2 linked regions of the Homo sapiens genome follow. The protein of the gene in region 1 purifies or fractionates together with the protein of each later gene. This does not show direct contact. Each region holds a gene or a part of one and is shown in the gene's direction. Other genes may lie near its edges.

Region 1 (4,788 bases):
AATCACACTTATTGTAAAGTCTCAAACTCAGAGCATGGGAATCTAAAGGAAACCCAGGGCTCACTGGCACATTGCAGGTATGCTGACAGGGCCACAGAGGCTGCTATGAAGAAGGGGCTGCCCGAGGTCCCCTTTTGAGCCGACTGCCCTCCCCAGATCACCAGCGCTGCACTGAGTGAAGCACCATACCCAAAGCTCTTTTCCTCCTTAAGCCCCTTGTATGTTCTCTTTTCTCTGCTCAAACTCCTCTCCCCCAAATTCAAATCCCAGCTGAAATGTCATCTGCAGGAGCTCATCCCCACTGATAAACACTTCCTGCTTTTTGCCCTTCTTTTTACCTTTATTTTCTTTAAAGTACTTGTCACAGTTTGAAATAGCCTTTCTTGCTTCTTTTTATTTCTGCTTACTTGATTCTTGTTTCTCTTCTCTAAAATATCAGCTCCACGAGGGAAGGGGAAAGACTGTATCCCCATCTGCCAGAATATGCTTGCCACAGAGTAGGTGTCCAGTGAACACTTGGGAATAAATGGATGAGTGAGTGTGGATGCCTCACTGAGGACTGTCACATGCCAAAGTGGCCTCGCTTCAGGTCACATGACCTTCTTGGTTCTGTTTCTTTCAGAAATCAATTCCATGTCAGCTCGAGTCCTGCTCTTGCTGGTGGTCCCAGGCCATCTGATTTTCTTCTACATCATCTACCTGGTGGAGGGTCAGTCAGTCATAAACAGCCAGACCTTTGTGGTGCTCTACCTGCTGGCAGGCCTGATCCAGGTAAGCCTGGCTGCAGCAATTAGAGGTGCGCAGCTGTGTAGTCAGCCAGCAGGCTTGATCTCTTGTCTGAGTGAGAGGCTGAGGGAGGCGGGTGGGGGTGGCTGGACGTGTGGGGCACAGTCCTTATCTTCCAGGAGTTGAGTCAACTTGTCAAATACAGAGGCCATTCCACACTGCACACCACATGCTACATGCCACACACTCCACACCACACAGCGCATCCCACACACTCCACACCACACCACAAACTCCACACCACACACTGTACCCCACACACTCCACACCACACACTTCACACCACACACTCCACAACACAGTGCAACCCACACACTCCACACCACACACTTCACACCACACACTCCACACCACACAGTGCACACCACACACACTACACACTGCATGTCACAGTGCATGCCACATGCATGCTACAGAGTGTGTGCTGCATGCTACATGCTATACAGCTTACGCTACGTACTGCACTGCATACTACACATGTCATCTTGCACATCACTCGTCACATTATGTACTGCATGCTAGACACGGCACACAACATGCCACACACTGCGCGCAGCACATTCATCATCACAGGATAAGAGGAGCAGCCCTGAGGATGAAGCATGTTCCCACGGAACAGGCTGAGGAGTGGTCCAGCTATCCACTGCCTCCCCAACGGTGGGTGGGCAGGGCCAGACCCCTGCAGGGTCTGCTGCTGCAAGGCATGCGTAGACATTGATCAGGGCTGGACAGCAGTAAGCATGGTGAAGGAGATTAAGCTGGTGCCTGTGTTGGGCAGGTATTCAGCACACTGCCTAGACTGCAGCGGGCTGATGGTCCCCAGTGGGTCTGGGGCCTTTGCAGGGAGCACCGTGGGCGCTGGAGGGCAATTCTATGGGTGTGGTGCTGGTACTGGCACTTTCTCATCTCCCAGAGTTTATGGCATTTGTAATTGTGGTATGTTCCTGACCCTAAAGGGTAGGATTAGGGAAATCCCAGAAGTTGTCCTGAGCAGCAGCAGCTTATGACTCCAGTTGGGGAGAAGGAAGGAGCTGGGGTTAGCCTGGACAAGGGATTGAGGAGCCATGAGACCTGAGCAGGCTTGTGTGGACTACCCCATGGCACCTTCAGGAAGGGCTGACTGTCCTAACCTCCAGGGGAGAAGGGCTCAGGCAAACCCAAATGGACATCTCGGCAAAGTCCCATGAGTAGAGCCTATCGCAGCAGAGAGAGCCCCAGCTGGTGAGTGGCAGTGGGTCTGATTGGCCCTTCAGGGTGCCAGAAGCTGGGCCCACTAGAGGGAGGCTAGGTAAGTACAGATGAGGGTCACCTCTCTAGCCACTGCTTGAGCTCGGAGCTGGGCTTCAGACCCCAAGAGAAGCTGGATGAAGGAGGCTGGCTGGGGTTGACCTGTCCACCTTGGTATCTCTCCTTGAGCCTCAGCTAGTGCTTCCTGCCTGTACTTGACTTTCTGACTTGGTCTTCTTTTGTGTCTCTTTGCCCTTCTGACAGGTGACAATCCTGCTGTACCTCGCAGAAGTGATGGTTCGGCTGACTTGGCACCAGGCCCTGGATCCTGACAACCACTGCATCCCCTACCTTACAGGGCTGGGGGACCTGCTCGGTACTGGCCTCCTGGCACTCTGCTTTTTCACTGACTGGCTACTGAAGAGCAAGGCAGAGCTGGGTGGCATCTCAGAACTGGCATCTGGACCTCCCTAACTGGGCCCCGCTGGTCCCATTTGCTCATTAGAATTTCCTCTCACATCAGTGGGATACAGAATTCAGTTTCTCCCTTGCCAGGTCCTTGGGATGGTTGACCCCTGCCTCTGCAGTAGCCTTTTGTGAGTCTGCTAAGGTAGCTCTCACACACCTCGGCTCTGGGGTTGATACCTGAGCCTGCAATAGAGCCCTGAAATCAAGAGCATGGCTTGAGTGTGTGAATATGATGTGTGCACATGCTTAATGAGCGTGCAAGTGTGCACACGTTTGTGGAGAGGAGGGTGTTCTGGCCTGAGAAGGTAAAGAAGAGGCATGTCCAGTATGCTTTGCAGGGTGTGTTTGCTCTTTTCCATGCCCATGCAACCCAGATTGGGGTGGAGCAGGAAGGAGCTCTTTTCTGTTCCCAAGCCTCAGAACTCTTGAGCTGTGGCTTACTTGCTGTCTTCACCAGGTTCAAGCTCCGTGGGCCACACTGCTGCTGTGCCAAGAAGGTGTACAGCCTCCCCAGGATGGGGCCTCATACAACCCTTCATCTGCACTCAACATTTAATCGTGTCCTTGCTGTCTTTTTATTTTCCTTTTTGTTTGTTAGCAAAAACCTCTATTTAGATTTCAATAATCAGAGAAGTGTAAAATAAAACAGATTATATTGTACTTGACCCTTTATGTCTTTAAAGATAGTTAATGCAACCCTGAGGCTTGGGGTCTATAAATAACAAAAGCATCTGGCATTTCTCTAGTGCAGTGTTTCTCAAAGTGGCCTTCAGCCTAGAAACGTCAGTGTCACCAGGAAACTTGTTAGAAGTGCAAATTATTATCCCTCACCCCCTGGCCTGACTAGCCAAATCAGCATTTCTTGGGAGTAGAGCCAGCTATATGGGTTCCACAAGCCCTCCAGGTTTCTCATACACACCCACGTTTGAGAACTACTACTCGAGAACATCATCTTTAAAAAATGTATGATCATTTCCTGTCTCTTATTAACTCATCAGGACAACTGTAGCCATGCTTGGACTTGAAGATTATTATCTTCATGTGGTAAAACAGACATCTATTCATGTATTCAACAAATGTTGATATAGAACCTCTTGTTTTAATGTTCTAGAAGGAAAGACATGGTACATTAACTGGAATAATTGAGCAGACTTTAAGGAAGGCACAGTTTATAGGTGCATGGGGACCAGAAGAAGGGGTGAAGCATCCTGGGGCCAGGCACTACCAGACATTCACCTGTCCTGGAGAATAGTTGGGATTGTGGTTTCCTGAGATGCATGGGGATCTCTAAGAAAGAGACACAGCTACATCAGCTTGTGGCCTGGCAGAGAAAGCCAGGGAAATAAATATCCCAATCTCATTCTCTGTCCACCCTATTATCTCCTGCCAGTGTCTCCCATTGGCCAAACCCAACCAGAAGTTCAATGACTGGGGAGCCGCTTGACGATCCACAGAGGTTTCAGCCTCCTGGGGCACAGAGCCAGGGGAGGCTGGGGATAGATCTGGAGAGGCAACTGGAGAATATTCAGCACAACTATATGCCAAGCTCCATGCTAGATACTGGGGACACACTTGTGGGCAAATCACTCATCATCCCTGGTTCAAGTCCCTACTAGGAGAGATAGTCAACATCACACAAGTATTGAAAGTCCAGCTCTGATAAGTCTTGCAAAAGACAAGCATGTGATGCTACTGAAGCATGTAATGAGAGCTAAGATCTATCAAGCATCTTCTGTGTGTCTGGTTGTATCCTAAACATTTGACGTGTAAACTCTGATAACCTCACATTAAGTGATGCAGTACATACCACTCCCATTTGTAGATGACTGAAGCATTGTGAGGCTTCTTAACGTTACCAAAGCCCTATGGCTAGTGAGTGGTGGACTGATTTGAACAGACATTTGGGCTCAGACCCAAGCGATGTGTGTGCCAAAGAGGTTTGACCAACACCGTGTTACAAGATCCTAGAGGTGTTGCTTTTCCAGCCAGAAACCTCTGTGGCCAGTGGTGCCTTTGCCTGAGTTTTGCTCAGGCCCACTGGGCTTGTTCTGTCCACTCGGCCTGGCAGGCTGCGCTCAGCTCACGCTACCAGCCTGGGATCCCACACCTGCCAAGGGTGAGCCAGGCATGGAGTAATGAGGGGTATGTGAGCGAGTGAGCATGAGGTCCAACCACTGCACACAGCCAGGCACCCCAGCTGCTGTGGCAGGGCAGGCAGCTCCAGGCACTGGCACAGGCGCCGGCTCCATGCAAGGCTGCAACTGGATCAGATGTACCACAAGCAGCTTCCACTGCAGTTACCCACAT
Region 2 (3,500 bases), on another chromosome or scaffold:
CAAGTTCAATTACAAGATGGGGACCACTGGATCCCTGAAATGATTTTTTTTTTTTTTTTTCTGAGACAATGTTTTGCTTTGTGACTCCGGCTGGAGTGCAGTGGTGCAATCATGGCTCAGTGCAACCTCGACCTCCTGGGCTCAAGCAGTCCTCCTGCCTCAGCCTCCCAAGTAGCTGAGACTATAGGCACACACCACCAACCTTGGCTAATTTTTTTCCTTTTTGTTGACATGGGGTCTTGCTATGTTGCCTAGGCTGGTCTCAGACTTTTCGCCTCAAGCCATCCTCCCACCTCAGCCTCCCAAAGTGCTGGGGTTACAGGCATGAGCCGCCACACCCGGCTGGGATGATTTTTCATCCTTGTTCATTCACTCATTCATTCCCTCTCTATGCTGCATATGTGCTTGCTGCAGGCCAAATCCAAGCCAGACTCTGAAGGGACAGCATGGGGTAAGGCAGGACCTGTTCTTGCCCGCCAGGGGCCTTTGTACTGCCCAGGCCTCTCCTAGCTAGCGTCAGAGCCCAGGTACCTCTCCACCACGTGCCACAGGCCAACCATTGTCTCTTTTGTCCTCAGACTGACACGTCTGACCCCGAGAAGGTGGTCTCTGCCTTCCTAAAGGTGTCATCTGTGTTCAAGGACGAAGCTACTGTGAGGATGGCAGTGCAGGATGCAGTAGGTAATGTGGGCTGGGTGAGACCTGGGTGCCCTCTGTCCCTTGATGCTCGTGGGCCCCAGGTATCCTTCGTGGTTGCCGTAACTCGTCAGCCCCAGCGCTCTCATGGGAACTGCTCTTTGGCCACCTGAGTTTTTCCTCCGTCAGGGTCCTGCCGTGGAGCCAGCTGGCTGCTCTTCTCCCTGTTTTTCACCACTGAGAAACTGAGGCCTTTCCCAAATCCACACAGCCATGTACAGTTAGAACCCATAGCCCGCTCTAGGAAGTCCAGATAGTCACATCTGCAAGCCCAATGGACGCAGGTCTATCGGGAGGAGGGATGGTGAGAGCCAAGCCCTTGTCCACACCTTGGAGCTTCTGTGCTCACGTCCACTCTACCTGGAGGTTCCTTGCACAGAGGACACCTTTCCCCATAACATTATGGGGGCTTCCTTGGAGCACCAGCCCATATCCCTCCAGCCCTATCACAACCCTCTCCCCACCCTGTCTGTTTCCTCCATTCCAGCACCTGTCACCTTCCACCCTGTTTCCATGTGCTTGACTGAGCCTCCACATCTAACGAAACCTGAGCCAGTTCCGGTTAGGCAGAGGGGAGGAAGGGCCCTGAGGCGAGGGGGACGGTTCCTGGAAAAGATAGAAAGGGGTGGAAGGACATGTGGTGCCTCTTCCCGGCGTGGCGTCGAAGCGGGGAGGGCGGCTCAGTGGGAAATGAGGCTCGGAAGGAGGTGGGGGCCAGACACAAGCCTGCTCCCTGAGGGCCCGCCTGTGGGCATTTTTGGGAACAAGTTGCCCTAGTTCTGTTTCCCAGGAAGCCTAGCACAGTCCCTGCACATCCCCTCACCCTGCCAAAATAACCTGAATCCTCCCCAGTGGTAGCCTGCCTCAGGAAATCTCCATTCCCACGGTGTGAGGTGGGCACAGTGGGTGTCATCCCCATGCCCATTTTATACCTGAGGCCAGGATGGGCAAGGGCCAGAGTGTCACAGCTGGCAGATGGACTGAGCCCATCCCCTGATGCCAACTGCCACTCCCTCTGGTTCCTGTGTCTCTGCCGTCCCTCTCGTGTTCGCCTCTTCGTCAGGGCGAGGAGGCAGGCGAGCCTGTGTCTGCGCGGTGTTGGGGGAACCCTGGGTGCCTTGGCCCAGCCCTCTGCCATAGCCAGCAGCCTGCCCCTGCTGCTTCTGCCCTACAGATGCCCTGATGCAGAAGGCTTTCAACTCCTCGTCCTTCAACTCCAACACCTTCCTCACCAGGCTGCTCGTGCACATGGGTCTGCTCAAGGTGAGGCCGGAAGGAACAGCAGGCCCGGGAGGGAGGTGGGTGGGGTCTGCACAGAAGCTGCCCCAGCCATGCCCGCCAACCTCCCTCACCTCGAGTCCTGAGCCGGCTCGCCCACGGGGCCCCGAGGCCTGGGTCTGCCCCAGCAGCCTTGGTCTTCACGATGAGATTCCGGCTAGACTCAGTTGTGGGCACTATCAGCAGAGTCTGGATGGTGGAGTCCAGGGGCCCCCCCAGGTGACTTTGAAGCTCACCCCGCTTTTCGCTGTGTTCCTCTCAGAGTGAAGACAAGGTCAAGGCCATTGCCAACCTGTACGGCCCCCTGATGGCGCTGAACCACATGGTGCAGCAGGACTATTTCCCCAAGGCCCTTGCACCCCTGCTGCTGGCGTTCGTGACCAAGTGAGTGTGGCCTTGTCCTTCTGCCGGTGCCTGCCCTCTCGGGCTTCTCTGGCCAGGTCTGAAGGCGCCCGGTTCCGGGAGGCCCAGCCCCAGCCCAGCCAGCCTGCTGGCCCCACTCAGGTGCATGAGAGGCCCTCATGCCTCCTGGGCTCTCAGCATCTGCATTGGAGTCTCACCACCCTTGGGAGGCCCACTCCCCTCTGCCCAGCTGAGGACAGTGGGGCTCAGGGACAGTGAGAGAGGAGACATGCGGCGCCCCCATTGTGCAGATGAGGAGCACTGGGTTGGTTAAGGAGTTTCCCTTGGTCACACGCTAGCAAGAGGCTGGGCCAGTGTCCAGACCCATGTCTGCTGAGCGAGGTGCTGCGGTTGGTGACATCTCCGGAGTGGCTTTTTGTCCACATTCACAGCAGCGCAGGCCAAAGGGGCCTGGTCACACCAGGCTCTGCAGCCCCGGGCCCTCTCCTGGGGACACACATTGCCACGGGAGCTGCCAAATGCCCAGCAATGTGTGAACCTTGGCCTTGTTCTGGAGGGTCCTGGGGTGTCCCGGGGCATTGATGGGGTGATGGGCACAGTCAAGTAAGAGAGGCAAGGCCCCACCAGGGAGGGGTCGGGAGGCTTGCCCTCTGAAGGCCCTGTGTGGCCCCTGGCCAACCTGTGGCCTTCATCAGGCCTCAGTCTCCCCATTTGTCCAACCGGGGGGTTAGGTGAGATTGTCTCCAAGCGCCCTGACCAGCCACACTTCCAGTCAGTCGGCGCCATCCGGGGACATGGGGCAGGCAGAGGAGCAAGGAAGTCCCTTTGCTGGGGGAGCCCAGAGCCCACCAGCTGAGGCAGGATACTTGGTGCATGTGGGGAGGCGGGGCTGGCGGAGCGTGAGCGGCCCCCGCTGGCCTCCAGCACCCAGCTGGTGCCGCGGCAGCCCTGTCCACTCCAGTGTCTGCATGGCGCCGCCTCCTTAGCCAGGCCTTACCTTCTGGCCGCATTTCCCCCACACCAGACCACCCCTTGGGCTGCAGCTGGACTGGCCTTGGTGAATGGCAGATCTCACTGTTCCCCTCCTCTGCCAGGTGCTAGGTAGAGCCTCACTGTGAATCTCATGGCTGGCCACAGCCTCACCCCGACCCCACCCCACCCCA

The links.
Region 2: the proteins of SLC41A3 (region 1) and RANGAP1 purify together in Homo sapiens (affinity purification with mass spectrometry; one large-scale study listed by BioGRID and IntAct). This does not show direct contact.

What each region holds. Positions count from the first base shown.
Region 1 is NC_000003.12:126,004,715-126,009,502, reverse strand, and holds the end of SLC41A3 (solute carrier family 41 member 3), read left to right. Parts: intron 1-622; coding exon 623-771; intron 772-2,277; coding exon 2,278-2,487; 3' UTR 2,488-2,938; coding exon of another isoform or gene 2,939-3,096; 3' UTR 3,097-3,146; downstream 3,147-4,788. UniProt on the Homo sapiens protein: Na(+)/Mg(2+) ion exchanger that acts as a predominant Mg(2+) efflux system at the mitochondrial inner membrane.
Region 2 is NC_000022.11:41,248,188-41,251,687, reverse strand, and holds part of RANGAP1 (ran GTPase-activating protein 1), read left to right. Parts: intron 1-578; coding exon 579-681; intron 682-1,870; coding exon 1,871-1,959; intron 1,960-2,236; coding exon 2,237-2,358; intron 2,359-3,500. UniProt on the Homo sapiens protein: GTPase activator for RAN. Converts cytoplasmic GTP-bound RAN to GDP-bound RAN, which is essential for RAN-mediated nuclear import and export. Mediates dissociation of cargo from nuclear export complexes containing XPO1, RAN and RANBP2 after nuclear export.